Homo sapiens: one gene and its partners. The protein of the gene in region 7 purifies or fractionates together with the protein of the main gene of each other region. This does not show direct contact. Each region holds a gene or a part of one and is shown on either strand. Other genes may lie near its edges. The genes, in order: MYH1, MYH7, MYEF2, CDYL2, RIOX2, HPSE and ZSCAN5A.

Region 1 (4,197 bases), on a different chromosome or scaffold from region 7:
GAGGTGACTAAAGCACAGAGAAGTATATACTGTCAAAGCTCGTATTAAAACACAGCTCTCCTGATTACACCTCACTGACTTTACTAGGCCATGCTATTACTCCATCCCATTAAGTTTAATTTGTTTATGGTCTCCTTGCTTGGAAACACACAATTTATTTTATATATTTAAGTAATAAGAGCCAAGATTAAGTAACAACTGAATCATATAAATCATGTATTATCTGAATAGAAATGAAAAATAGGAGTTCAATCCTTTTGGTGCCTCAGTTTCTTGTTAATTATAAATTAGATTCTTTTACAAGTACTGTCATCTCTTTAAAGTTATCAGAGTACATCTCAGATATAATATCCTCTGTTTGAATGAAGATGATGTTTTGGGGCTACACACATATAAACAGAAATTGTTTTCCCCCCTTAGAAAGATTTTATTTTGATTGAGGCATCCTCTCTTACCTCATCTTTCTTTAACACAATGGTACACTTTGGGGAAGGCTGATCGAAGTTAGGGCTATATTGAAGTTAGTCTGTGGCCATAAGATAGTAAATTTTTTCTCTTTGTGAAGTCATCTGACACATTTAGAAACAAAATCTCAGTCATGGCTTGATTAACACTATTTCAATCTATTAAATAATAGTCCAAGCCTTTAGCATATTATGCATTTTTCAGCTATATGCATTAATTAGCAGATAGCATGCCATTGAAATCTACAGATGACAACTACGGAATGTATCTAGCTTTGGAGAATACTGCTCTTTATATTAAACCAGCAGGACACACCCATAACTTTACCATAATATATTGAAAAACCCCACTGAATACATGACACTTATACTCAAATGCCCTGTTTCACTATAGAAAGTTTTGTTTGTGTAACTGATACATATGCTGATTTTCCACTGTTTTTCTTCTAGATCGGGAGAATCAGTCTATCTTGATCACGTATGTATTCCTATTCTGAGATTTATTGGCAGTTTGTTCTTACTGGAAAAATGACAAACCAAAAAAAGAAATTAGTTAATGTTCTCTACTAAAGCACTGAATGATCAACCTGGAACTAGATATTGGTTTAGCTTTATTATAAGGTTTACATTGCATTAGAATGTAAAATAATAATGTTCTAAATCACCTCATTTGCTGGTCTTGAAAGTTCCACAGAACTTTTTGGTGTGTAGAAAGTGTAAAATGAGCTGGGCTGGAACCCAGTATAGTGCAATGAGCAGCATACAGCCTTCAAAAGGTACAACAGTTTGGAAATACTACTAGTGGTTCATTTTTAAGGCCCACTTAGAGAATGTCTGTTCCTTCAAAGACCAAACTTGAGCCATGTCTCTAGTCCGAGGAAATGGAAAAACACATGCACGTTTCATAGAGTTTCCTACTAATTGTTCCATTCACTACAGAGGTGCTGAGTAGCTGCTTTTCAGACCCCTCAAGCCCAGGCCTCAGCACCCAGAAAAAAAGCTGACACATTATAAACACTCAAGAAATACGTGTTAAATGAACAATGACTGATTTTTTCTACTTCTTGCCAGTGCAAAGCAAAAGAAATAATACGAGCTATATGTAGGCTGAAAAGAAAGATGTAAAAGGCTCTCTAATAGAGATATAAAGACAAAGCCATGAGGTAGTTGTAGTTTCATTTGTCACAGTGCTTAATTTCTCATACGTTTGGTCTTTGACAGCGGAGAATCTGGCGCAGGGAAGACTGTGAACACCAAGCGTGTCATCCAGTACTTTGCAACAATTGCAGTTACTGGGGAGAAGAAGAAGGAAGAAGTTACTTCTGGCAAAATGCAGGTGAGTCTGATTGTTAGTCAGAATCCAGGCTCTGTCGGGACTCTCAGGTAGGAAATTCCCAAGCCCCAGATGCAAGGACTGCTCTTGCCTTTGCAGGGGACTCTGGAAGATCAAATCATCAGTGCCAACCCCCTACTGGAGGCCTTTGGCAACGCCAAGACCGTGAGGAATGACAACTCCTCTCGCTTTGTAAGTCTCTTGGTTGCCAAAGGGTCTTCTCTGCCTTTAGATGCCAGAGAAAGCATGTCTGAATTATTTCAGTGGCATCCCCACTACGTACTTCAAGCTTTGGGTATAACATCATTTTTTTTACTTACAAGGGTAAATTCATCAGGATCCACTTCGGTACCACAGGGAAACTGGCTTCTGCTGATATTGAAACATGTGAGTAACAGGACCTCCTAAATAGAATCCAAGAATGACAAATATTGGTTTGGAGGAACACTTTGCAGCTCCTGCTGAACATGGAGCTTGTAAAGCACCAGTCTGCTGCCAAACATGCTTGTGGTTAATGTCAGTCTTATCCATAGCCCACAGTATGCTTTACCCACTCCAGTCATGAGGTAATGCTTCTGTGGGAACTGCCAGGAACTGCTGGGCATGTCCAAAGTATTCCAGCCTCAGAATGATTTCAATTTTTTTTTTAAGAAAAAACTAACACTAGAAGTAAACAAGTTGTCCAGGGATTGAGGATATGTGATTTATTCCTAGTCTGAGCTTTAATACTGTTGCTTTTAGTAGTCCCTCTATTATATGGCGACAGGACCCTGCAGAGGGAGTCTCAGGACTCAATTATATTCCAAATGTCAAGGATCTTCTGTATGAGAAGTGAATATCTTGAGCCAAGCATATTTCACTTTTTTCCCAGGAGGCAGGAGGAACTGCAATAGTGTTTGTAGAGACATAATATGTGGTACTTCACAGGAACATTCAGTTGAAATCTCAAGAGGCCAGTGAGATTTAGCTAATGATCCCAAGTCCTCAAATCACTCCAGGACATTGTGTAATTTTTCCCCATAATCTGATGTCTACTATCCGTTGCAGATCTTCTGGAGAAGTCTAGAGTTACTTTCCAGCTAAAGGCTGAAAGAAGCTATCATATTTTTTATCAGATCATGTCTAACAAGAAGCCAGATCTAATTGGTAAGAAATAAATTCATAGCTAGAAGATTGTCACTGTACTATCTTCTAATGTAAAACATATGCCCTGAATTCTGTGACCCAGAAATGCTCCTGATCACCACCAACCCATACGATTATGCCTTCGTCAGTCAAGGGGAGATCACAGTGCCCAGCATTGATGACCAAGAAGAGTTGATGGCTACAGATGTAAGTTATACATGAATTTTAATTTAAAATCCATTATGCATGGGAATGGCAATAACAGCCATCTATATGTGTGTAAAAGATACAGTATAAATTCTCTTGTGCCCTAATCTTTGTCTTCTCATCTCTCATGGTAGAGTGCCATTGAAATTCTGGGCTTTACTTCAGATGAAAGAGTGTCCATCTATAAGCTCACAGGGGCTGTGATGCATTATGGGAACATGAAATTCAAGCAAAAGCAGCGTGAGGAGCAAGCTGAGCCAGATGGCACTGAAGGTACCAAATGAATCTCCATCTGGGTTTAATGAGAGAATATAGGCAAAAATGTCCATTCCAAAATTCAAGTCTTCTTTACAGCTGAGCTCCTGATGGACATACTCAGATGTACCCACACACAGACTTTCTACAAAGTTATTTACTCAATACTATGCCCCTTTGAACTGTGGGTCCCAGAGTAAGTCATATTAGGTATCTGAATTATGTTTCTGCAGTTGCTGACAAGGCAGCCTATCTCCAAAATCTGAACTCTGCAGATCTGCTCAAAGCCCTCTGCTACCCTAGGGTCAAGGTCGGCAATGAGTATGTCACCAAAGGTCAAACTGTGCAGCAGGTAAGTGCATGACCTCAATGAATCACACACATCCCAGGCCTTCATGACATGTCTTTAATAACACCAACAAACTTTATCTGTGAAGGTGTACAATGCAGTGGGTGCTCTGGCCAAAGCTGTCTACGATAAGATGTTCTTGTGGATGGTCACCCGCATCAACCAGCAGCTGGACACCAAGCAGCCCAGGCAGTACTTCATTGGGGTCTTGGACATTGCTGGCTTTGAGATCTTTGATGTGAGTTAGCAGAAAAATTGTACCAAAAAAGTTTCCAACAAGCAAGCTTGTTGCTGCAGTCATATAGCATGCCTGTAGTCACTTATGGAAAGGGTCTATGAAAAATAGCTGCACTTTAAACTTAACTGACACATGAAAGAGCACCAAAAGACCGTGAAAGGAAGTGAACTTTGGAATGAGACAGACCTGGATTCAAACTCCTGCTCTGCCAATTACTAGCTGTGTA
Region 2 (4,197 bases), on a different chromosome or scaffold from region 7:
GCAGGGAGAATTCAGGTGGTAAGGCCAAAGAGGCACCTTCTCGATGAGGTCAATGCAGGCCTGCAGGTCCATGCCAAAGTCAATGAATGTCCACTCGATGCCCTCCTTCTTGTACTCCTCCTGCTCCAGCACAAACATGTGGTGGTTGAAGAACTGCTGCAGCTTCTCGTTGGTGAAGTTGATGCAGAGCTGCTCAAAGCTGTTGAACTGCAGGGGGCATGAGGGGTGGGAGCAGTCAGAAAGTGGGTGTGAGTGGCCATTGGGGCTGTGCCCGTCCACTGTGCCTGAGCCCAGCAGGGCGTGGCTGGTCCCCTCCATGTCAAGGCAGTGAAGGAGGGCTTCCCCTGAAGACAGAGAAAATGACTGCCTCTGTCACCACACAGTCCCCACTGCCTTCCCATGTCTGGTCCACAGCTGGCTCTAAGCAAATAGCTGTTGAATGTGGGAGCGAGTGAGTGATTGTTCTCCCACTCCCAGGGGTCCCAACTCACATCGAAGATCTCGAAGCCAGCGATGTCCAGGACTCCTATGAAGTACTGGCGTGGCTGCTTGGTCTCCAGGGTGGCATTGATGCGCGTCACCATCCAGTTGAACATCCTCTCATACACTGCCTTGGCCAGTGCCCCAGTGGCATATATCACCTGCAAGGTGGAGGAGAGACCCATATTGAGCAGGGTTGTTGGGAAGAGTGAACTTGAAAACTCTCATCCCACCATGCCAGTCTCCCTACCCTGCCCACCCATTATCATCTGAAGATGGACCCACCTGCTGGACATTCTGCCCCTTGGTGACGTACTCATTGCCCACTTTCACCCGAGGGTGGCACAGCCCCTTGAGCAGGTCGGCTGAGTTCAGCCCCATGAGGTAGGCAGACTTGTCAGCCTCTGGAAGGAAAAGGCAAGTAGCAAAGTTGGTAAAGAGATGACTGCTGGCCAGGTGTGGTGGTTCATGCCTGTAATCCCAGCACTTTGGGAGGCCAAGGCAGGCGGATCACTTGAGGTCAGGAGTTTGAGACCAACCTGGCCAACATGATGAAACCCCATCTCTACTAAAAATACAAAAATTAGCCAGGCATGGTGGTGCATGCCTGTAATTCCAGCTACTCGGGAGGCTGAGGCAGGAGAATCACTTGAACCCAGGATGTGGAGGTGGCAGTGAGCCAAGATCGTGCCACTGCGCTCCAGCCTGGGCAACAGAGCAAGACTCCATCTCAAAAAAAAAAAAAAAAGAAAAAAGAGAAGAGAGATGACTGCTGAGCAGACATGGCCCTCCATGACTTGACAGCTGCCCCCAAGAATCCCTGCCTCCCACCTTCAGTGCCGTCTGGCTCCGCCTGCTCCTCCCGCTGCTTCAGCTTGAACTTCATGTTTCCAAAGTGCATGATGGCGCCTGTCAGCTTATACATGGAGTTTTTCTCCTCTGAAGTGAAGCCCAGCACATCAAAAGCGTTCTGTAGGGAGGCCCCATATTGGCGGACCCCAGAAAAAGAAGTATGATGGGTAAGTGAGATCCCTTGTAAGTTGGAGAGAAAACTTGTCTCCTTAATCCCTGTGGGTTCTGAGACTCCCATACCCAGTGGGGAGCTCCAAAACAAAGGATGTAAGATGCAGGGAACTCCAAAACAAAGGATGTAAGATGCAAGAGCAGAGCAGACGTCAGTTGGCCGCAGCCCCAGTGTCAGTGGCCACAGCTTTTCTGAGTTACCCACTTATGCTTCCTGGCCCTACACTTGCTTCCTGCCTGGCCTTCCATACCTGTCTGCATCTGTTCACCTAACAGCCCCTCCAGCCCCATGCCGTCTGCATGGCCTTCCCTCCTCGTCCTGCTCCCTCGGTGATGCTTGTTTCTTGGCTTGTGTGTCTCTCTGTCTCATGGCTTTCAGCTCTTCCTGGTTTGATAGAACACCAGATACTGGCCAGTCCTGTCTCACCTCATCCATTCCCCAGTACACCCTGATCACAGGGCACATTCTGGCTCTCAGGAGGTCCATACCACTTTAAACAACCAATGGCCAGCGTCTTAGCTCTGCTTTTGGACCCCTGTTTGCCCCTCACTGCCAATCCTCCCACCCCCTGGCTGGGTCCTCACACACTCACATCAGTGGCCATGAGCTCCTCAGCGTCATCAATGGAGGCCACGGTGGTCTCTCCTTGGGAGATGAATGCATAATCGTAGGGGTTGTTGGTGATCAGCAGCATGTCTAGGGGAAAAAACATGGTTAGGGTGGGACACAAGCCCCCGGCTCTCATGGAGGCTGCTCGCCACAGCACATGGCCTGAGGAAGAGCACAGGACAGGGCTTGGCTTGGCCCCACATCCCACTGAATTGAATCCAGCAGTGCCATGAAACCCAGGGCATGCCAGCTGAGTCCAGCCACAAGCAGAGGGGACCAGGTTGCCATGGAGATAGTTGGTCTCAGTCGGTGGCTCTGACTCACCCAGCAGCTCAGGCTTTTTGTTAGACAGGATTTGGTAGAAAATGTGATAATCTCTCTCTGCTTTCAGCTGGAAAATAACTCTGGATTTTTCCAGAAGATCTGTGAACAGGTGGGGAGAAGAAGGAGAGAAAGAAAAGTTAGGGTTTGGGCACAAGGAAAATTAATGATAAATGTAGCAAGCAAAAGGCAGAGGGAAGGGAAGAGCCAGAGAGACTAGTTGGACAGACACAAAGAGATCACACAGAGAGATGGAAACAGAGACCCAGAAGGAGAGAAATAGTCTCAGAGAGAAATCCCAGAGAAAGACACCTAGCCATGCAGAGACAGAAATGGAGAAAGATGCAGAGGAAGTCTCAGAGAGAGACAGATATGTAGACCTGAAGACAGAGACACCTACAGACAGAGACTTAAAGAGGAGAAAAACAGAGGGAGGGAGGGGAGAGAGAGAGAGGTCAAGACCAGATGGTCTAGAGCAAGGGTGAGCTTAGGCTGAGCCTAGCAGATTCATGGCACTCACAGGTCTCTATGTCTGCAGATGCCAACTTTCCTGTTGCCCCAAAATGAATTCGAATGAATTTCCCCTGGAGAGATGGAAGAGAGTGGTGATGAGTTGGGGGAAGGCTCATATCTGAGACCATTCCTCCACCAGTCCAAGTCCCAAGGCCAAGGTCAGGGACCACTCACGAAGCGGGAGGAGTTGTCGTTCCGGACGGTCTTGGCATTGCCAAAGGCCTCCAGAGCAGGGTTGGCCTGGATGATCTGGTCCTCCAGGGTGCCCTGCAGAGGCCAAGAAGGAGGCAGGTGAGAGCTCTTCTCCCTCCCTTTCTGCGGTACAGGACCTTGGAGGGCAGCAGGCCTACCTTGCCCGGGCTCTGGTCCTTCTTGCTGCGGTCCCCAATGGCTGCAATAACAGCAAAGTACTGGATGACCCTCTTGGTGTTGACTGTCTTCCCTGCTCCGGATTCTCCGCTGTGAAGACAGGGGCTTATTGGGCAGTGAACAATACTACTGGAGACCAGCAAGCCTCAAATCAGGAGAGAATGCCTGGGCCTACCCGAGAGTAGGAGCCCTGGGCAAGAAGCTGCCAGGTTATCTACACCCAAAATCCACAACTGTCTTCTGATGCACAGAGGTCAGGGCTGGCACCAGGAAGGATGCCACCAGAAGGCACTGGTTTGGGCAGGCTGAGCCTGTGCTTGGCTGGGCAAAGTAAACAGGGGAGATGGGCCTGGGCTGTTTTGGGAAAAGTTGGTAGGGCTGGAAGAATGGGAAATGTTTCTGAAGGGAAAGAAAATGCAGAGGTGAAGACATGGCGATAATGAGCTTCTGGATAAACGCGTGATGAGTTGGAGAGTGGGTGAAGGAGGTGGGAGAGGAAAAACATGAAGGGGATGGAAAGCAGAAAGGAAGAGGGAGAGCAAAGAGAGGGGTCAGGGTAATGGTCAGAGAAGAAGGAGATGGGCACGAGGTTGGGGGGAAAGAGGCTGAGTCTATGCCTCGGGGCCTGGGACACCTGATGGGGCTGGAGGCTGGGATCAGGGAGATTCTGAAAGGGAATACAGTAGCAGCTACACTCACGTGATCAGGATGGACTGGTTTTCTCTGTCTGTGGGGAGAGGGTGGGGAGGAAAGGTCAGGAGCTGCACAGGATGCTCTCGTGGGGCTTCTCCCTTCCTTCTCCCTCTCCCTCCCGGCCTATCCCAGTTCCCTTCAGGAAGACCCTTCCAGGGCCTCTCACCTGTCAGCATGTACTGATAGGC
Region 3 (4,197 bases), on a different chromosome or scaffold from region 7:
TGGACAATAGATGTGGAAACACTTAAGGTGCCATATAAATATAAATAAATATTTATATCAATGAGAAAACTAGGTAATATAATATTTGCCTTATTCAGTGTTATACTTTCATGGTTATTGACTTTTTAGTTTGATTTGAACCATTTAAAAAGTAATTATCAAATTTTAAGTGGGTCTACAAATTTGGGCAAGATACTCATTTTCAGATATGTGTGCCATATATAAGGTGATATGATATTATTCAAAATCCTCTAGGTATTTTATTATTCCTCTCAGTGTACCTTTAAGTGGGGTATAAGGTGTACTTTGTATTATATCATGTTTTATTTCATAAAACACTTCTCATTAATAAATGGTTTTATAGTCGGGCTTCAGTGTGCTACTTTCTAGACAAAAACAAGAACCAGTGCTTTTATATGAAAATTTGCAGAAATTTTACAGATACTACTACAGGTATATAGCTTTTTAAAAAATTTTATTGCCAATTAGTTAATCATATATGGATCTTTGTAATGATTGTTCTCATTTTTGTTTTAGGTGGTCTTGGAGGCATTGGGATGGGACTTGGTCCGGGTGGACAGCCTATTAGTGCCAGCCAGTTGAACATAGGTGGAGTAATGGGAAATTTAGGTCCAGGTGGTGAGTATTCTAACTTCCTCTTTTCTTTTTAAATGATACATATGCTAGCTAATAAAGCCTCCATTGATGTGGTCTGTAATAATGTTTAAAGGACTCTAATTAATAGTTAGATATTTACGGTGTCACTTCATTCTGAAAAAGGAATGAAACCTTGAGCACAGCTAACATGAAAGAGATAGGCAGAAGTCAGGAGGGTTTCTTTGGGGCCAGCTATGTTGTAGCTAGCCTTTTAGCATTTTGGATTTTGAAATGTCTTGAAGGCAGAAGGAGAATATATCATCTATGAACAGTATTTATGGAGTAGCTGAAATGCTACCATATCATAGGCAGCTAAAATCTGTTTATCCATTTGGGAAGGTGGCTTTTCAGGTAGTTATTTGGCTGCTCACCTGGAAGAACTCACAGTTCATTTTTAGAGATTGGTTTTTAAACTTTGGTGTTAGGACCCTTTTATATTTTAAAATTTGTTGAGAACCCGAAAATGCTTTGTTTATGTAGTTATAATTACCAGTATTTACTGTATTATAAATGAAAAATTAGAAATTAAAAAAATTACATATTAAAAAATGATAAACTCATTACATGTTAACATACATAAAAGTTTTAAGAAAATAAACTATTTTTCAATGCAAAAAAGAAATTGGTGAGGAGAGTGGCATTGTTTTACCTTTCCACACATCTTTTTAATGTTTGGCTTAATATTGCTGTTATATCTGTTTCTGCACTTTAGTTTTTTGTGATATTGTACATCATATAGTGTTTGGAAAATTACACCTTAAACTCAAGAGAATGAGGGTAAAACATCAAATAATGTCTTAGTAGTATTTGGTGACTTAAATAGTTTTGACCTATTGAACCCTCAAGAGTCCCTGGACCATACTTTGTGAATTACTGTTTTAATTGATGGACTAATAAATGCTATCAGATTCCTATTTTGTCAAGATGCTGTAGTCACACTTTAAATTATGAGGCTCATTATCATAATCATTCTGATCCAAACAAGTTTTCTCCCTTACCCTTAGACTCTCACACCTACCTACCCTCTCCTAAATACATACTATTTATATTTTGAAAATTTTTACTGCTCTTTTAACTGCGATGTTTAGAGAGTCCTTACATTCTGGCCTGATCTCTAAATCTGCTGTAATGCTATTTCTGTGTCTATGCTGGAAAAAAAAAATCATTGATAGTAGTATTTCTGTGTTTATTGTGGAAAAAAAAGTGAATGATTACCTAGTTCAAGATATTCTCTAACTGAATGTTGTGGGTGTTACTAGTGAATTTTGCTTTCTTGTCTGATAAATGTTCAAAGAAACCCTTTTGAAGATTCATGATTAGACAGCTGCTATGGCATAGCACTTTAAACCATGCCTCCTGTACCCTACCGCTTCTCTAGTGTTTCATTGTGGTTATACCAGTGGTATCTATTTTGCTATAATGCATTATATCATCTTTTAGTCATAAAAATAAAATATACTTAAAGTACATACTGTGTATTTTATTTGAGGTATGGGAATGGATGGTCCAGGTTTTGGAGGAATGAATAGAATTGGAGGAGGTATGTATAAAGATTTGTTTTTTTGTATGTACCCATCACCATTTTTAATAAACTAGAAACTGTGTTGAGAATTCCATGAAAAAAAAGTCATGGTTTATTGTTGGCTCATGTTCTAAAGGCTGCTAGCAGAAATTGAGCCTGGTACATACTTAAAGGAAGGTGATGTGTTAAGAAGTAGCTGCACAAGGTAGGGTGGATGAAGAGCTTACTGGTGAGATTTAACATTTACAAAACGTACCTTTCAGCTACATGACTGACAGTTGGATCTCAAAATTAATCTTTATTCCATAGGAATAGGGTTTGGTGGTCTGGAAGCAATGAATAGCATGGGAGGATTTGGAGGAGTTGGCCGAATGGGAGGTAGGTAAATGTATGCAGTGGGAAGTGTGTGCATATTTAGTTTTCCCTATTATTAATATTTCCCCCCTATAACTTAGGAATGTGTGCTAAAAATGTCTTCAGAAGGCATATAGGCACTAGGGGATAAGGACAGGCCTGGGGAATGGGGATGATATGTGTGGCATGTGAGGTAAATTGGGTAAATGACAGACTATTTTATATTTGTGACTTACGCGTCTTTTCATAATTTAGATACATTCCTGAATGTTTTCAACATGTATTGATATATTTGAAAAGGTTAATTTGTTGCACAATTTTTTCAGAGCTGTACCGTGGTGCGATGACTAGTAGCATGGAGCGAGATTTTGGACGTGGTGATATTGGAATAAATCGAGGCTTTGGAGATTCCTTTGGTAGACTTGGTAGGGCTGGCTGCATACTTCTCCTTTTCTTTTTGTAGGCTATAATTTTTGAAATTTGGTTTCTCTTTTTTTGTGAAAAATCAGAAAATCATAATGTTTTATACAACTTATTACCTGAAGAAAACACTTTAAGGATTTTAATATGCTAGCTCTCTTTTTCAACATCTTACATATTTGAACTCTATTTTCAGAAGACTTTATGCTTTTCATTTATTGTAAATCAGAGCACATAGTACCTTGGGAATTTTAAAGTATGATTATTTAAAATTAATTAGTATATTATCTTTCCATCCTTGTTTAGGCAGTGCAATGATTGGAGGGTTTGCAGGAAGAATAGGATCTTCTAACATGGGTCCAGTAGGATCTGGAATAAGTAGGTTTAAATTTTACTAGAATTTATTCAGTAATATTTGAGTGCTTGCAAAGACTTTGCAAGAGTAGTTATCGTAGTATAGTAATACTTTGTTCTTATACGTTAATGTGTCTTGCTATAATTTGAGAAACCTTGATAATTGAGCAAAGCCTTTCTGTTTGATTATTGTTTGAAATTTCTAAATTAACTGTTTGAATTTTACTTTTTTGATATTTCTAAACTATGTGTTAACAGCCAATCCAGGAACCTTCTTTCCAACTAAGGAATCTGGGGATTTCTCTGATCATGTTTCAGGAGCAACTTTTGCTTTAGCACCAACTTTGTTTCCTTGCTTATTTTCTATAATAGCTATTAGTGACTAGCTTATTTTATTTGTAAACATCTATGTCTTTTGGTAAATGCAGATATAGCACTCTTAGGCATCTCCTGAGCTTGAGTCAGGCTAAGGTTGAAAGAGGTACTTAATTCTTTTCCTCTTGAACCTTTCCCGTAATAGCATCAAGAGTAGTTGCAACACTGGGGAATGCTGAATCTCCCATCCGTCTATTTCCACTCCTACCTTTTAGGCCTTATATTAAGCCTGAATACATGGATTATTTATTTATTTTTTTAACCTCTTTTGCTTACTGGGACATGTCTCTGAGCTCTCCATACTTTATTGACTTCCTTTAATTGATCAAATTTCACAAATAGAAAATACAACCTATTTAAACTATTCTAAAAGTAAATTCTAAAATCCTGTCAGCTTAAGACGTCTACTTCCATTGTATCTTGCTCCTTTTATTCCTCCTTCCATCATCTTTTAGCCTCAGCCATTTCCTATTAGTCCTAACTTCCTTACCTTCCTCTTTTATCTCAGTGTTTGT
Region 4 (4,197 bases), on a different chromosome or scaffold from region 7:
CTTCCTATATCTGCTTCCGATGGAGGTTTGGGGGTGTTGGCTTGGCCTTGCTTTCTTTAGCACATCCCAGAGCTCCTGATGTATCCTGTGTGAGGCTGGAGACTGGGAACCGTTATACATCTGGATCATTCTGTTTTTAGTTTTCAAACCTTTTCAGGAGGGCACTTTCAGGCCATTTGTGAATGTTAATATGTGAAACAGAAAAATGCAAAGCCATTGTAATTGATTTGCGAGAGGAAGAGAGAGACCTAAGGATACTGCCTGCTTGGTATTCACCCCTCTCATCTCAAGGCAGCGCCTGAGGAAGCCCTAGGGGGGTCCCAGAGCCCCATCTCTGGTTCTCATATTAAATAAGGTCATGCTCGTGAATGTATTTGAGGGTGGTGCTTAGCACATAATACGGGTTGGTTAAAGGTTAGCTGCTGGTCTTGCTCTTATTGATAATTTCCTATGATTCATAGGCATCCACCAGTGGAGAGGGCTGCCTCTCAGGGTGGTCAGTGGATTCCCTGTGGCCAAGGAATCTGAGCAGAAGCTGATATATGGGAGAAGAGAGTAGAGGACCGCACAGGGCCTTCACAAAGAGCCCTCTAGGTCCCCTTCTGAATTTGGAGATGCAGGAATTCAGCCTGTCTCTTCACCTTCCCTCTTCCTAGAACAGAGGGTGGCACAGGGGAGAAGGTGGTGTGTCCCAGCACATCCAAACCTTTCCATTGGAAATCCCAACGTCCTCTGATCACATCCTTCTAGGATCGTGGTCCATTTCAGTTTCTTACATTGTTTATCTGGTTTTGGAAGGCTCTGCTCTGACCAACGGGGGATTGAACCTGCACAGTCCAGTGAAGAGGAAGCTGGAAGCGGAGAAGGACTACGTCTTTGACAAAAGGCTCAGATACAGTGTCCGCCAGAATGAAAGCAACTGTCGGTTTCGAGACATCGTTGTGCGGAAGGAAGAAGGGTTCACGCACATCCTGCTGTCCAGTCAGACCTCGGATAACAATGCCCTGACACCTGAGGTAAGGGGTGGCGGCCAGAGGGAAGGGCAAGCTGGGCTGTGGCTCCTTCTCACTCAGAATGGAATATTGGCTTTCTCCTTCCTTCCATCAGGGAGCTGAGGATGGTAACTAGCGTGCATAAAAACTTGACTGCAGCGCGCAATTTGCTCATCATTTTACATACATTATCCCATTTGATCTTTATGACCGTGTAATGATACCCTCTCATCTTATGGATGAAGACCATGGGGAGAGGGACTCACTGAACTGATCGTGGACACAGACTTAGCCAAGGGGCAGACCCAGAATCCAAACATCACATCTTGGGCTTTTCCAGCTAAACTTTGTTGTCATCAGCATGTCATATTTGTTGGCCGCAGATATAATTCACTCAGTTAATGTATCTCACTCAGTTTATAATACATATATATGTTACTACATATTGTATATATAATTGAGACAGATTGATTTCACATACCATAAATGTCACCCTTTTAAAATGTACAATTCAGTGATTTTTAATATATTCACAAGATTGTGCAAGCATCATCACTACTGAATTCCAGAACATCTTCATCACCCCAAGGAGAAACCTCACCCACATGAAATAGTAACTTCATTCTCCTTTCTCCCATGCCCTGGAAACCACTCATCTACTTTCTGTCTCTGTAGATTTGCCTATTCCGGACAGTTTGTATCAATGGAAACGTGCAGTTTGTAGCCTTTTGTGTCTGGCTTTTTTCACTTAGCATGTTTTCATGTTTCATCCATGTTTTAGTGTGTATCCATACTTCATTCCTTTTATGGCTAAATAATATTCCATTGTATGAATAGACTATATTTTATCTATCACCTTTTCTATTTGTTCGACTTTTGGCTTGTTTCTACTTTTGATTTTTATGGATAATATTTCTACAAATGTTATATACAAGTTTTTATGTGAACATATATTTTCAGGTTTCTTGGATATATTTCTAATTTCTAATATGATTTTCTTGAGTCTATTCCAATTCTTAGAATTGCTGGGTCATATTGCTTACCGTATTTTTCGAGGAACTGCAAAAACTGTTTTCCACAGTGGGTCCCCCATTTTACGTTCTGACCAGTAGTATGTGAGGGTTCTAGGTTCTCTGTATCCTCGATAACACTTGTTACGTCTGTCTTTTTTATTATAGCAATACTAGTGCATGTGAGGTGGTATCTCATTGTGGCTTTGGTTTGCATTTCCCTGATGACTAGTCATGTTGAGCATCTTTTCATGAGTGCATTGGTCATTTATCTCTTCTTTCTATTCACATCCTTTGCCTATTTTTAAAATTAGGTCACTTTTCTTTCTATGGTTGACTTTTAGGCATTCTTTATTTACTCTAGATAGTAAGGCCTTATCAGATACTTGACTTGAAAATATGTTCTCCTATTCTGAGAGTTGATGTTTTACTTTTTTGATAGTGCCCTATGACAAACAAATTTTTAAATTTTGATAAAGTCTGTTTTACTGCTTTTTCTACATTACTTTTTAAATATTAATCATGCTTATGTCTTAGATGAATAAAATAGGGAAACAATGAATACTTAATGCAGTGAGATTGACAACATCATTCAAAATACAGGGTACATGGCAGGAGAAGGGAACAGATTCTTGACGGCACAAAGGTGGGAAGATGCTCCACGAAGCAGCCTTTTCCTACAAGATGCCTGGGGTAGGGCAGTAGAGTGGTAAATGGCGATAACAGTGATGACAGCCACTGAACAGGGGCTCTTTGTTCCTTGTATTTGCTGTTTATCTCATGTCATTTCGTCACCTCCCTTCTGATGTAGGATTGTTATGATCCACATTGTATAGATGAGAAAATTTAGGCTTAAACAACCCAACTGGGCTAGGGTCTCACAGCTTAACCAAGTAGGTGCCAGGAGGGCAGGGGTTCTGTTCTTGCTCGCCCTTTTGTCTCTTCTGTTCATCCCAGTGCCAGGCCCACTGAAGACATTTAACTCCGAGACCCCTTTTTCTGTCCTTGCAATATCCTGTATTCTCTTTTTCATAATAGCAATGGGAGGTTAATGAGAAGGGTATGTTTTGGAGGATGAAGTCAAGGGATGGCCACTCACTCACATCGGGATAATAGAATGACCTAGCATTGTCCAGTGTACCCCGTACCATCAGGGAGGCATAGGAAGTGGGGTGGGGAGGGAGGTGCTGTGCTCTTGAATTTGTGATTGCATTATTATTATGGTTGAAATAGACCCTGGTTCTTTTACGGGGTTGTGGGTGCGGCCATCTGGAATGATTGACAAATGGTGAGGGAAGCACTGTGGCTAAAGCTTTGGGGTTGTGGGGTAGTGGTTGTGTGCTGCCCCTTCTCTGAGCATGGTGTTTTGGGGGCCTCTCCATCCTCCGCCTGTAACAGAAGCATCCCTGGGGTTCTCTGCTGTGTAGACCTCTGTGTGGGATTCAAAGAAGCCCAGAGCCTGCAGTCCACCCCGAAAGCAGCTCTTCATATGTTTATACACCTGGAAACCTCATTATTTTAAGCTCATCATGACATCTGCAGAGACCAGTTTTTCCTAGATTCTTTCTACTTCACTACTTTCTAAAAGCGTGCTCTAAAAAGGCACAGCATTTTCTTTCAAGAAATTGAACACATGTGAAGTCTCCAGTTCATTCCCTCTGTGGAGCAGCCCTGGGTGGTAACTGTTGCCCACTCATCATGGAAAACATGTTGTGCTCGTCTGATTTAAGGTGCACAGGTTCTCACCTCCTGAGCTGCGGGCTTGGTTAATTGGGGTTCCTGCCCTAATCAGTGTCAGTTGGTTACAGAACAGGAGGAAAACAGTCAAAGTTATTGATCTGGTATTTTCAGCTGTCTCAACAACTGAAGGGGATTGAGTATGTGGGTGAGCCAGCTGACTGGGTAAAGCAGCCCGTAATGAAGGTCCTACTGAAATGAAGAGGCTGTGTGAGAGGAGGAATACAGGTTTTAGTCTAGCAGACCTGGCTTCCAATCCTCCCTTCAACTTACCATGCTGTTACCTTGGGAAGTTACTTTGCTGCTCTGAGCTTCCTCCTTTATAGAAATTTTACAGTATTTTGCTGGCAAGATTAGAGATAATGTATGCACAGGAGCCCACAAAGTACCTGGCATATAGGAGGTATGTAATAAATGTTCCCATCATTGTTAATGGGAAGCAGAGGCCATTTAATGTC
Region 5 (4,197 bases), on a different chromosome or scaffold from region 7:
CCCTTCAAGAGATATTCCTAAATTGTGGGAAGTCCCAATATCTATTCTGACTCTTAGAGGAGCACTATTTAACTTCTACTAAATTCCTCCATGAGCTGTTGCTGTATGACTTCCACCTACATAAACCTGCAAAGGAAGCACATATTGTATGGTGCTGAGAGATCTGCATGTGCCCTCCGGGTTGAGACTCAATTAAAGATGCAGGGTTGGATATAACATTAAGTCACAAAGCAGTGAGGCCGCCAGGTAGTAGATGTCTTGGGAAAAGTGTCTCTCATGTGGCTTTTGTCCTCCTTTGCAACTTTTCTGGGAGGGAAGCATAACAGTGTTAATTTTGCTTACTGAGTGAGAAGTAAAAGTCATACTGTGAATTTCCATTTTCTACTAGCCGGCAATTTGAAATCTGCTGGTGACACAGGAAAATTTTAAATAGCTAAGAAATGTTTAAAGAGAGCATCCCCACAGAGTGCATTTCTTACACCGGCACGCACTTAGGAATGAGCCAATTCCAGATACCCCAGAGAAAGCAAAGGTAATTGAATAGGGATATTTGTCCCTAGATGTTATTTTTAGTCACTGGCTTCTATCCCCCGGTAAAACCACTGCTAGACATAATTGTTTTGGAATTATTGATGGTAGATATTTTCTTTAGGAGTAGCATCCCTTGTAAGTGACAAGGAAAATGTAACATACAACTGTTCAAATAATTACACAATCCAGATATCTTGCTGTTACCCCAAATTTGTTGTATTTATTGCACATAAAATTTGGTTTTAGATCCTATAATGACTGTTTAAATTTCCTACAAATCTCCCCTCATAGACACTTTTGTTAAAAATTTGGTCCATTGAACTTCCTGTTTTATGAAAGTCTATGGTTAATTTTCTGAGAGCTTTTAAGAGAAATCAGTATTGAAGCCTAGCTTCCCACTTTTAACTTTGCAAGTGAGTGTCTGGAACGGGGAGGGAGGAAACAGGGTGGTTGATGAAGGTCTTAGATTTCCATGCTGAGTAATGTCCAATTAATGGAACTCAAAATGCCTGGACAGGGAAGCCATAATCCAATTTGTAGCTTTTGGCTTTACTAGCAATAAGTATTTTATGTATATTTCGTATGCACTCACTGTTTTGGTTTTTTTTTCCCCCTTGGTGCATATCCTAGTTCATGGGGAGATTTCCTTTTGGATACCATCTCGGGGCTTGTATTTGATACTGCAAAGGAAGACGTGGAGTTACGGACCGGCATACCCCGGCAGCTGCTCCTGGTAAGGAGTAAAGGCAGGTAGGAATGAAGGATGGTAGCTGCAGCCCAGGCCAGCTGAAGTCCTACCTTAAGGACCCCAGGATACTTCTTCCAACATGAGCCAGGCTTGTCTACTGTGCTGCACTGCTGAGCTGTGTGACTTGCAGAATGAGTGGAGTGCCATGTGTTATGTGGTGATCCAAAGAACTGTGATGTTGTACAGACAGCTCTGTATTTCACAGTGGCAGTAGCAGGCAGTGTGAAAATGTTGGTTGAGTAAATGAATAGTACGGCCAGGAGAACTGTAGATTTAGCACACATCAGATTACTAGTTAAGAGAAACTCACTGTACTGGAGATCCTGGCCTCGGTGTATTCGTTGGCCTCCTGTTCTTTTATTACATTTTGAAACAGGAGTGTTATTTGATTAGTTTTGAGATGAGTGGATTAGAGCTGAGTTGAGCAAAGGTTGCTTTCTCTGAAGCATTCATCTTAGGACAGTGACCTGCTTTCCAAAAGGCAGAGCTCAGACTGTACCATATTTCCAAGGATCTCTATTTCTAGGCAAAATTCTGAAAATTTTTTGCAAACAATAGGCAGCTTAGAATTAACAGTGTTTATAAGGAAATGATGAGATATCATTCTTAGGGGCTCAGGTTGTCCCTTCCCCTTTGGAATGACATGGATTAATGTCTATACCCGGTGGCTGGCAGTTTTGCAGTCTACTGTGGAGACTGAGCTGGGCAGTAAGTTCTGCTGGCATCTGGGCCAGGACTCACTTCTGTGTTCCTAGCAGGTGGAATCCACAACTGTTGCTACAAGACGATTAAGTGGCTTCCTGAGGACACTTGCAGACCGGCTGGAGGGCACCAAAGAACTGCTTTCCTCAGACATGAAGAAGGATTTTATTATGCACAGACTCCCCCCTTACTCTGCGGGAGATGGGGCAGAGCTGTCAACACCAGGTGGAGCTTGCTGTTTTCTTCTGGGTGGTCAGAGGCTAATGCAGGATGTTTACGGTTTTTCTGGGTAGGCTCCTTTTTGAACAGATGGAAAGTATGAAGTGCTTTCGTGTTAATGTGGACCACATCCATCCTTAGTGAATATGGGCAGACGAGATGTGCTGCACTCAACCTTTAGCAACCTGTATCTTAGAAGTCATTTGGAAAGAACTTGTATCCCACCCTGATGGGAAATAAGAGCCCTGTCCTTTTGGGTGAGAAATATGTATATTTATAGGTACTCTGGTATTCATAGTCTTCAGGAAGTTTTCAAAATTTGAACATTGAAATAATCTTGTTGGAATTAAGTCAGGGTTGGGTTGTCTTTATTTGTGTTGCTTAAAGGAATACCTGAGGCTGGGTAATTTATATAGAAAAGAAGTTTATTTGGCTCATGGTCTGCAGGCTGTACAAGAAGCATGGTGCTGGTATCTGCATTTGGAGAAAACCTCAGGCTACTCACAGTGGAAGGGGAAAGGGAGCTGGCATTTGCAGAACACATGGTGAGAGAGGAAGCAAGAGCGAGGAGAAGTGCCAGGCTCTTTTTAACACCAGCTGTCATGGGAACTAATGGAACAAGAAGTCACTCACCGCCCCCAACCCCAGGGAATTATCTATTCATGAGGGATCTGCTCCCCACAATGTGACCCAAACACCTCCCCTTAGGCTGCACCTCCACACTGGGGATCAAATTTGAACATGAGATTTGGATGGGACAAACATCCAAATCATAGCATGGGTAAAATTGTTACCATCAGCCAGTGAGATTCAAGAAATGTCCAAGATTATCATCAACCTTCTCCAAGGCACAGGTGCCTAATTTATGACAGATTTAGGCTGCAAATGATATAACATACTTTTGGATGGATGATGTCATTGATGACTTCCAGATGGATGATGTCAGTATCCTATAGCAAAGACCACCAAGAACATACTCCTGAATTCAGACGAAATTGGATTTATTGACTTGTTGCAGTGGGAAGACCACACACCATTGAGAACTGCAGGGCATCTCAGTAAAACGGTGTTAGAAAAGACTTATAGGACTCAGGTGTATGTTAGGTGATTTTGGAGAGGGTTCAAGGAAGCAGGGCTTTGCTCTGGATTGGATGCTGTCAGGAAATGGAAGGGATTCTATGATTAAGTCTCCTAAATGTTATCTGGTAGGCAGGAGGAATGTATGAGGCTGAAGTTATCAATGGTAAAGCGGAAGTGGTCACTCATTAGCCAGAGTAGGGGGATGTTCGGTCAGTGTTGTGGTTTGGAATATGTTCTTGCCTTGCCTGAGTCCAGACATGAGTATGTACGGAGTGGTGGTGTTTTGTTTTGACCTATCATGGTGACAGTGATCTCTGATGTTAGCATTCTGTGGAATTGCCTGTGTTCAACAGGAGAACACAAAGACCTAGCTGTGAGTGCCAGGCCAGCTTTTTGGCTGCTGTTCTTTCTCAGGGTTGAGTGAAAAGAGTATTTTTTACTAACTTTAATAAAACTCTTAATTATGACCAAGAGAGAACCACTGAGATAGATAATCTATAAGGTCCCTTCCAACACTGATTCTATATACATTTTTATCATAGTCTTTGGAGGAAGCTTAGAATTTGTTTTTGATTGTATCTATTCAAAATAGCAAATGTTTTACAAGCACATGGTTTAATCTTTAGCAGAACAGTTTGCTTATGCACCAGCTTATGGCCCAGACTACTTCAGTGTTTTCCTTATCTTAGGCATTATACTCAATAAAGTGATGATCCCTCACGACTCCTTCCCCACGCAGATGACCCTGTAAGGCTAGTCTGTTTTTATTGGGTATTGTTCCACTAAGTTAAATCCAATTTGGAAAAAAAAAATTTTCTGTGGACTTTATTAGATGGCTTTTATAGGATACTATTCTTGACTTACATAGACTGAATAATTGACCAGGGTCACACACCTAATAATTGGTGGAGTAGTGC
Region 6 (4,197 bases), on a different chromosome or scaffold from region 7:
TCAACCAAATGTAATATATGGACCTTGTTTGGATTCTGATTTGAATAACTATCAACAATATTTTAGACAAGGAAAATGTGAGACACTGACAAAATATTTGGTGATACTAAGGAATTATTGTTATTATTTAAAGTATGATAAAAGTATTGTGTTTTTACAAAAAGGATACATACTAAAATATGTATTTTTTTGAGACATGGTCTTACTCTGTCACCCAGGCTGGAGTGCAGTGGTGTGAATGCAGCTTACTGCAGCCTCAACCTCCTGGGCTAAAGCGATCCTCCTGCCTCAGCCTCTCATGTAGCTGGGACCACAGGCATGTGCCACCATGCCCAGATAAGTTTTTGATTTTTTGTTGCCGTAGCTGGTCTTGAACTCCTGGGCTCAAGTGATCCTCCTGCCTCAGCTTCCCAAAGTGTTGGGATTACAGGTGTGAGCCACCACACCTAGCACATACTGAAATATTTATAGATAAAGTAATATATCTGAAATTTGCTTCAAAGTAATCTAATAGGTAGGAGGTGAAAAGTGGGAAGGATTACGGATTAAACAAGATCAAAGTATGCAGGAGGAAATTATATTTTCCTCCTACTCTTTAGTTCTTAGTTGGGATGGACCTCTGTAACAAGACAGAAAACAGGAGAAAACAAACAGAAGCTTGTTAACATGTATATTAATACATGTATGTTAACAGAAAATACCAGGGAACAAGTAATTCTCAAAGAGGTGGCTTAGAACTCCAGCTTATAGAGCAAATTTTTGGACAAGAGACATGACAAAGGAAAAGGATTTTTAGTCTCTGGGGTGGCAAGTTGTGGGAAGGAAAATAAATGAGTATGTAATATAGATTCTTCTAGTGCCATCTCTACACTGATAAGGGTCTGAAGTTATCTTCAGTGATTAACTCTTGTTTTTCCTGGTAGAAAGGGAAGGAGGGGGACTTTTAAGATTCATGTCCTGCTTTTAGGCAAATGGAGAAGGACAGAGAACTTTTCTTCTATGTGTTTCTTCCCAGTTGCCTTTAGCTCGAAATAATCCTTATGCCAAAGTGGCATATTTTGGGGTGGCATATTCTAGTCTCCTAAAGTGGGTTCATATACTTTCCTCTGTATTTTGTATATGATTAAAATTTTCTATAGTAAAAGTTTTTCTTAAAAAACTGCGGATCGGTGGTGGGCACAATGGTTCATGCTGTAATCCCAACACTGGGAGGCTGAGGTGGGATGATCACTTGAGCCCAGGAGTTTGAGACCAGCCTGCACAATACAGTAAGACCTTGTATCAATTTTTAAAATAATAAATAAATAAATAAATCACCATTCAACACATACCCCAACTTTCCTTCTTGAAAGTAGAGGGAAAGTAGACTTAACAAGACAAATGGCTTTTGTTTCTCTGCTTAAATTCCACTTTTTCACTGGAGACAAGAGTGGAATCAATGTTTTCAAAGGAGACATAAGCATGGGTCAATGACTGGTAGGGTAGAAAGTATGCAGGCCTCAGAAGCAGGATTTGAATGGGATTTTTAAGAGTAACATAGGACTACAGTATGGCTTCCTGTAAATCATGCAACCTCTTCTCAATTTGAACTTCCTTATCTAAAAAATGGATCCAAGATACCTGCCTTGCCACCTCACAGGACTGTCATGCAAATAAAATAAAGTCACAGACATGTAGAGTGAGTTTAAGTCTAATTCTCTTGGATCTACAAGTGAGAAGGGTACCATTTACTCTTGCACATTTTTCTAGCTGACTGAGAACCTTGAAGGAGAAGCATATTTAGTGCATATACAAAGAGTTCGTAAGGCAAAGGTTTATGTCTGGGCCCTGGGAAAATTTGGATGAGATAAAAAGGTCAGGAGTAGATTTTGAATGTTTGTCTGGTGAAATTACTATGCTTAGTTTAACTCTATACATGACAGAATATACTTGGGGAAAGATAAATTCCATTTTTGCAAGATCACTTTTCTAAGAATTTTCTAAAAAAAGATGACTAATATGTTCCACAAGCTTGGATCACTATAGATAAAAAGCAATTTTGTTGGGAAGTCTATCCACAAACCACAAAAGCCTAGCTTATATTTTCACGTACGCTCTTTGCAAAATTTCTTAGCTTTCCTACAACATTCAAATAATTCTTTTAGGAATTATTCTTAGAAAATATATATCTGCAAATGACATTTTAGACTATAAAAATCAAGGTCATGCTTCTCAGGGCTACATCTGTATTATCCCTGACATATATTTAGACATACAGATCTTCCACGAGGCTTTTTGGGAAGAAACATTTCCTGATTTAGCACCAGATACAGTTGGAGGAAGGATTAGAAATAAGACTTTATTCATAAATATCTTGAAGATTATTAACAACATAGTAAATTCTTAGCATGAGATTTTTAAGCAAACACATGGTACTGGCTCATTTTAAGGTTAAATAAATTACAATTTCATAACATAAAAAATGTTTTGAAGCTTTGCGTACTGTAGGCAATTATAACTTTGATTTACTTTGTAAAACATTTGAAAATCCAACTTATTTTGTCTTGTATAATGAGTCATAAAATTTCAAATTATCCCCTTTTAAACAAAATCCACACTATACTGCAAATGGCTTACCTTTAAAAAGTTATTCCTAGCTCTTGATTTCTTCTCTTCAAACACACAAAAAAATGTTAGATTGGATGCTATCTAAGGCTCCTTCTAATTCATCATCTCATGATTTGGCTAGTTACTGAGAGGACTGACTGTTCATAGGAGGTTAACACCAGAGGTCCTGAGTTGACTTTAATCTACTCCACTAGAATTAGGAAAATAATGGTCACTTACAGGTAAAGGATCGAAGTTTTCATCCACTAAATGGTAGTTTCCTGCTCCAAAGAATACTTGCCTCATCACCACTTCTATTCCCATTCGGGCTGACAGGCCCAATTTATCCAGCCACCTGGGACAGAGCAAGACCAAGCTTTCTTGAGGTTTGGAAACAAAATCGCTCAATTCTAATTGCACACCATCTTGATTTTATTTATGTATTTATTTATTTACTTATTTATTTATTTAGAGACAGGGTCTCACTCTGTCACCCAGGCTGGAGTGCAGTGGCGTGATCATAGCTCTCTGCAACCTCAAACTCCTGGGCTCCATTAATCCTCCTGTCTCAGCCTCCCAAGTAGCTGGGACTGAAACCGCCTTTGCAAAAATTATAACTGAGGAAATTATGACAGTGAAAGAGATCAGACCTCATTGACTCCATCTTGCTTCTAACCTTTAAGCTGTCCTTCTTCATTCCTGGGTGTAGGCTGAACTAACTTTGGGAAGAAATTCAGTTCATGGTTTGACTCTGAAACAAAAATGATAATAGCCCTTTTCTGAAAAGACCCCCTTCTTGCCTGGGGACAAGTCTACCTTTGCAGGACTAACAAATTAGCTACAACATTAGAGATTACGGTTTAGGGATAATGCAGCCTCTGGCTCCAAGAGTCTGAACCTCCCCAAATTGTTCCTGGGGATAACATCACTGTTGTAAAACCTAAGATCAGTGCTTGAGATATCTTGCAGACCCTGAACTGGGTGGATCATTTGAGACCACCCAGACCGGTAATCTGGCCCAACCAGTTCTGCCATCCCATCCAGGAACAGAAGACAGCAAGAAAACCTCACTTCCACTCCCTGTGATTCCATCTCCAACCTGACCAACCAGCACTCTCCACTTCCTAAGCCCCTACCGGCCAAATTATCCTTAAAAGCTCTGATCCTCGAATGTTCGGGGAGACTGATTTGAGTAATAATAAAACTCTGGTCTCCTGCACAGCTGGCTCTGCATAAATTACTCTTTCTCCTTTGCAATTCCCCTGTCTTGATAATTGGCTCTATCTAGACAGCAGGCAAGGTGAACCTGTTGGGTGGTTACAGGACCACAAGTGCATGCCACCATGCCTGGTTCTGGTTTATTGATCTTTGAGGGAGGAATTAACAGGAAGCCAGAAAAGTGTCATCAATTATAAATAAGTCATTTAAATGAAATGGCAACTGCATGCAGCAGCAGCAGCAGCAGCAGAATCCCTCCCTTTACATCTTTCCATATGATAACAAATCCTAGAAGACTATTACCATGCTAGAGGTATCCCTTTCAGGGTGAGACAAATTCCCACCTCTATAGACAATTCCTGGTCCTATGAGGTCCCTGCACAAACAATGTGT
Region 7 (4,197 bases):
GAATTTAGAGGTTGCCAAATTTAGGCCACAAAATACACCATCTGGGGCAGGGAGATAAATATGCAGAGCAGAGAGGATTCCGGGGGCAGTGAAAATACCCCCCAGGATACTCCAGTGGTGTGTACTCATGAGGCCTTTGTCCAAACCCACAGCACGTACAACACCCAGAGCGAGCCCTAATGAACACTATGGACTCTGGGTGGTGGTGATATGTCCAGGCAGCCTCACTGATGGAACAGGTGCACCACTCTGCTGGGGATGCTGGGCAGGGAGAGGCTGTGTTGTGTGAGGAGGGAGTCTAGGGGAACTCTGTGCTGTCCACTGAATTTCCCTGTGAACCTAAACAGCTCTGAAAAAGAAAGTCTAGAGCCAGGCGTGGTGGCTCACCCCACACCAGCCTGGGCAACAAGAAATCCCATCACTACAAAAAATTATTTCAAAAATTTGAATATCATAATTATAATAAAGTCTAATAAAAACAATACAGGGCACAGCGGCTCATGCCTGTAATGCCAGCACTTAAGGAGGCCGAGGCAGTTGGATCACTTGTACTTCGGAGTTCAAGACCAGCCTGGGCAACATATCAAAATTCCATCTCTACAAAAACCACAAAAATTAGCCAAGTTGGTGGCGTGCTCCTGTAGTCTCGGCTGCTCGGGAGGCTTAGATGGGAGGATTGCTTGAGCCTGGAAGGTCGCGGCTGCAGTGAGCGGTGATTATGCCACTGAACCTCAGCCTGCGTGACAGAGGGAGACGCCATCTCAAAAAAAAAAAAAAAGAAAGAAAGAAAAAAGAAAACGAAAACTCTACAGGATACCCAATAAAAGCTGAGTTTCAGATAAATAAATAATTTAGAACATGCTGATACTAAAGAAAATTGTTTATCTGAAACTCAAATTTCATCAGGCATTATGTATTTTATATGGCCACCCTCCTTGGACAACTGTACTTTACAGCAAAACAGTGGGTAACCCCATGTCAATCAGGAAACTCAGTTTTCCGTTATACAATATTGAAAACTAATAAGATGATCGTTTATTGGAAGAACAGCAACACAAACCAAAATAAACCTATAAGAAAACAATGGACATAATGAAACAGAAAACAAAGCTCAGTGGGGAGGACACATATTTACTCAAACATCCTGGCAATTCATATCTAGGGCACTCCCTCTGTGTGTCAGACGCCCTTGCATGTGTCAAATGTCATCTGATAACATTGATGAAAAATATCATTCACTTCTTCTTGGTGCAGAAGGCATAGACCGGATTATGCAATCACTGAGAAGTAGCTTCTGGATGTGTTTTCTGGTGGCGTCTTAACAATTTCAGCCGACTGAAGGCTCTTGGACACTTGGAACATTTGTAGGGTTTCTCTCCGGAGTGGATGCGCTGGTGCTCCTTCAGGCTCCCCCTGTAGGTGAAAACTTTCTTGCAGTCTTTACATTCGAAGGGCTTCTCCCCTGTGTGGCTTCTCTTGTGACACTTCAAGTAGGACTTCTGGGTGAACTGCTTCTGGCAGACGTCACACGTGTAGGGCCTCTCGCCAGTGTGGGTTCGCTGGTGAAATTGGAGGCTAATAAGCTGCATGAAGCGCTTCCCACAGAGATTACATTGAAAGAGTCTCTCGCCTGTGTGTGATCTCTTGTGGATGACTAGCTTGGAATTACACGTAAACCTCTTCTCGCACACGTCACATGCAAAGGGCGGCAGTGCCTTGGCTTCTTGGCCATCCGGGTGACTGACTGGGCTCGCAGGGCCTGGGGAATGAATTGAATTCATCCCAGCTTGTCCCGGGGATTCTCTGTTGCCCACAGGTGTGGCTTCTCCTTGAGGCTCTTCTTGGGAAATGGAGGAGGCATCTGGTTTGCTTCTTTTGGGACTGCTCAGATTCAGAGCGTCTCCTCTGTTCCCGCTGTGAGTCGAAGCTTCTCTCTCCACAACGCAGGCAGAAGGTGTGTCAGCATCCACATTTTCCACAGAGGCTATTTTTGGGGGGTCCTTCCCCTCCTTTGCTCTCACCAGATCTGCTGGAAGAAGGGATTCCACACACACAGTTAATAAAGCGCATTTTCAATACACCAAACTCATTGCAACCAAACACTGATGTTGGCTGACAACTTCCGCTCAAGCTCAAGCCTAAGACATTGGACTGTAGGTCTCTGGAAAGTAGAGGATGGGGAGGCTTTGACAGCTGAGTGCCAACTCCCCCAGGGGATGATAATGCTGGGCCCCCAGCCCCGCACCCCAGAAGAGAGGGACTAACCCCTGTGGATCCAAGTCTTCATACTCACTGGGACTCTTTGGAAGCTGAGGCTCTGGGGATGTCAGTCCTGGGTTCTCTTCCCTGTTTTCCTTCAGATCCTTCTCCAAGGTCTGCTTGGGTCTCAGAGACTTTGGGTCACCTGTTACGTCAATACTCTTGTGTAGCAGAAAGTCCTCTCCCTGAAGAGGAAAAACCAAGAGTAATGACTGCTGTGTCCAAACTGGTGGAAGCAGGGACACATCTGTCCCCTTCTGATTGGATGCAACAACTCTTCTAATGACACAGGTGTGGAAATACGTGCAGACTTCCCCTGGACCACCCCATCACCCCACGTAAACATCACCATCTCATTTCTGTGTCTGTCCCTAATCTGCACCCTCCATATTCCAAATCAGCTCCTGTGCCTGGTGGTTTTCACTGTTTGGTTCTCTGAGCATATTTCTCCCCGCCGTGCCAACGTCTCCCTGCACCTGACACTGGAAGGAGCATGACTCTAGTCGAGGCCCCTCAGCTGTGGCACCACTGGCATTGGGGCTGCATCACCCTGCTGGAGGGGGCGCTCCTGTGCAGAGCAGAGACCCCACCTCCACCCTCTAGATGCTATTAACACCCCACCATCCCCTACAATGACACACAAAAGCATCTCCAGACATGGCCATGTGTCCGGAAAGGCAGAATCACCCCAGTTGAGAAACACTCCTCAAATTAAGAAATTGACAATCTGTAGAAAATGGTTTCCTTGCTGAATTATTACATTAAATGTCTTTGAGGAAACTGGCTACGGGGAAGGAATCTTCATTCATCTGTGCAAACTGCCTCCCTCATTTCACTGAGATCATTTCTTATGCCCCACCCTAAATGCTAAAAGCTCTCATGGTGGAGAGAAAAGTAGATGAGGCTTCCCTCTCTGTGATGGCTCAGGAATGAATGTTTGGGGATGTATCATGTCCATGGGGAATGGCTCTAATCTTGTCCTGTGTCAAATCTCTCAATCAGTCCAGCGGCCACACGATTTCCTCCTGTTCCTTCTCCCACCTCTGCCCAGACACCAAGGCCTCACACACTCACCTGCCTCCTGGACAATGCAGGGACCCTGGGCAGGATCTGCAGCTCTCGGTGGGCCTGGCCTTCCCCTGGACGCATCTGGTTCACCGAGGAGGCCCGTTGGCTGGACACGTCTTTCAGATCATCTCTGACACTGGAGGGGGCTTCAGCCATCTCGATATCTGAGTCCTGCACAATATATTCCTTTCCGTGGAAGGTGACCACAGACTGTAGAGAGAAAAAAGACAATCAGACTCACCATGAGAACCTGAAAGTAGCTCTCATATTCCCTGGGTCCTGCCATAATGCTCACACTTTACTGTAATTAATGTTCAAATCTGCCTTCCCAATAGAGAGTCAGCTCTGTGGACACAGCAATCCTGTCTGAATTTTTTCCTCTCTAGACTCCAGCACCTGCCTGCGCCTGGAATATTCTAGTTAAGTACATAAACATGGGTCCTTTAGATGAAATAGTCTCTAAACCAAAGAGAAGACAAGGAGAAATATTCTGGGTGAATCCAACTCAATTGGCCGATGGCAGCTCACCTTGTATTAGAACTTAGGGGCTCATTTGGGGACCTGGGGGCAGATCCCTGCATCTGATACCAACCACTTTCCCTGCTTCAGGATGGGACTCCTGGGCCCCCCTTCAGTTCACTCTAATGCCTCCTTCCCTACATTCCATCAGGCCTAATATTTCACCAATGTCTTTCTTTCATGTTGGCCTCACACAGTGTGTGGGTCCCTGTACCCCCTCTGCCTGTCCATCTCCTACACCAGGAACTTGCCGTCTCAGCACAGCTGATATTGGAATCTGGATGATTATTTGTCATGATGGGTTGTCCTGAGCGTTAGAGAACGCTTAGCAGCGTCTCCTGTCCTCCCTGA

The links.
Region 1: the proteins of ZSCAN5A (region 7) and MYH1 purify together in Homo sapiens (affinity purification with mass spectrometry; one large-scale study listed by BioGRID and IntAct). This does not show direct contact.
Region 2: the proteins of ZSCAN5A (region 7) and MYH7 purify together in Homo sapiens (affinity purification with mass spectrometry; one large-scale study listed by BioGRID and IntAct). This does not show direct contact.
Region 3: the proteins of ZSCAN5A (region 7) and MYEF2 purify together in Homo sapiens (co-immunoprecipitation; one large-scale study listed by IntAct). This does not show direct contact.
Region 4: the proteins of ZSCAN5A (region 7) and CDYL2 purify together in Homo sapiens (affinity purification with mass spectrometry; one large-scale study listed by BioGRID and IntAct). This does not show direct contact.
Region 5: the proteins of ZSCAN5A (region 7) and RIOX2 purify together in Homo sapiens (co-immunoprecipitation; one large-scale study listed by IntAct). This does not show direct contact.
Region 6: the proteins of ZSCAN5A (region 7) and HPSE purify together in Homo sapiens (co-immunoprecipitation; one large-scale study listed by IntAct). This does not show direct contact.

Annotation. Positions count from the first base shown.
Region 1 is NC_000017.11:10,511,613-10,515,809, reverse strand, and holds part of MYH1 (myosin-1), read left to right. Parts: intron 1-914; coding exon 915-942; intron 943-1,685; coding exon 1,686-1,800; intron 1,801-1,896; coding exon 1,897-1,989; intron 1,990-2,120; coding exon 2,121-2,184; intron 2,185-2,844; coding exon 2,845-2,943; intron 2,944-3,025; coding exon 3,026-3,129; intron 3,130-3,263; coding exon 3,264-3,402; intron 3,403-3,617; coding exon 3,618-3,736; intron 3,737-3,821; coding exon 3,822-3,971; intron 3,972-4,197. UniProt on the Homo sapiens protein: Required for normal hearing. It plays a role in cochlear amplification of auditory stimuli, likely through the positive regulation of prestin (SLC26A5) activity and outer hair cell (OHC) electromotility.
Region 2 is NC_000014.9:23,428,464-23,432,660, forward strand, and holds part of MYH7 (myosin-7), read right to left. Parts: coding exon 4,176-4,197; intron 4,044-4,175; coding exon 4,016-4,043; intron 3,407-4,015; coding exon 3,298-3,406; intron 3,215-3,297; coding exon 3,122-3,214; intron 3,019-3,121; coding exon 2,955-3,018; intron 2,537-2,954; coding exon 2,438-2,536; intron 2,201-2,437; coding exon 2,097-2,200; intron 1,451-2,096; coding exon 1,312-1,450; intron 885-1,311; coding exon 766-884; intron 642-765; coding exon 492-641; intron 208-491; coding exon 37-207; intron 1-36. UniProt on the Homo sapiens protein: Myosins are actin-based motor molecules with ATPase activity essential for muscle contraction. Forms regular bipolar thick filaments that, together with actin thin filaments, constitute the fundamental contractile unit of skeletal and cardiac muscle.
Region 3 is NC_000015.10:48,150,234-48,154,430, reverse strand, and holds part of MYEF2 (myelin expression factor 2), read left to right. Parts: intron 1-537; coding exon 538-639; exon of another isoform or gene 640-2,124; intron 2,125-2,146; coding exon 2,147-2,197; intron 2,198-2,488; coding exon 2,489-2,557; intron 2,558-2,859; coding exon 2,860-2,958; intron 2,959-3,259; coding exon 3,260-3,331; intron 3,332-4,197. UniProt on the Homo sapiens protein: Transcriptional repressor of the myelin basic protein gene (MBP). Binds to the proximal MB1 element 5'-TTGTCC-3' of the MBP promoter. Its binding to MB1 and function are inhibited by PURA.
Region 4 is NC_000016.10:80,629,838-80,634,034, reverse strand, and holds part of CDYL2 (chromodomain Y-like protein 2), read left to right. Parts: intron 1-798; coding exon 799-1,016; intron 1,017-4,197.
Region 5 is NC_000003.12:97,947,853-97,952,049, reverse strand, and holds part of RIOX2 (ribosomal oxygenase 2), read left to right. Parts: exon of another isoform or gene 1-440; coding exon of another isoform or gene 441-532; intron 533-1,161; coding exon 1,162-1,264; intron 1,265-2,034; coding exon 2,035-2,206; intron 2,207-4,197. UniProt on the Homo sapiens protein: Oxygenase that can act as both a histone lysine demethylase and a ribosomal histidine hydroxylase. Is involved in the demethylation of trimethylated 'Lys-9' on histone H3 (H3K9me3), leading to an increase in ribosomal RNA expression.
Region 6 is NC_000004.12:83,303,377-83,307,573, forward strand, and holds part of HPSE (heparanase isoform 1 preproprotein), read right to left. Parts: intron 2,942-4,197; coding exon 2,827-2,941; intron 1-2,826. UniProt on the Homo sapiens protein: Endoglycosidase that cleaves heparan sulfate proteoglycans (HSPGs) into heparan sulfate side chains and core proteoglycans. Participates in extracellular matrix (ECM) degradation and remodeling.
Region 7 is NC_000019.10:56,220,298-56,224,494, forward strand, and holds the end of ZSCAN5A (zinc finger and SCAN domain-containing protein 5A), read right to left. Parts: intron 3,538-4,197; coding exon 3,334-3,537; intron 2,445-3,333; coding exon 2,294-2,444; intron 2,030-2,293; coding exon 1,278-2,029; 3' UTR 1,006-1,277; downstream 1-1,005.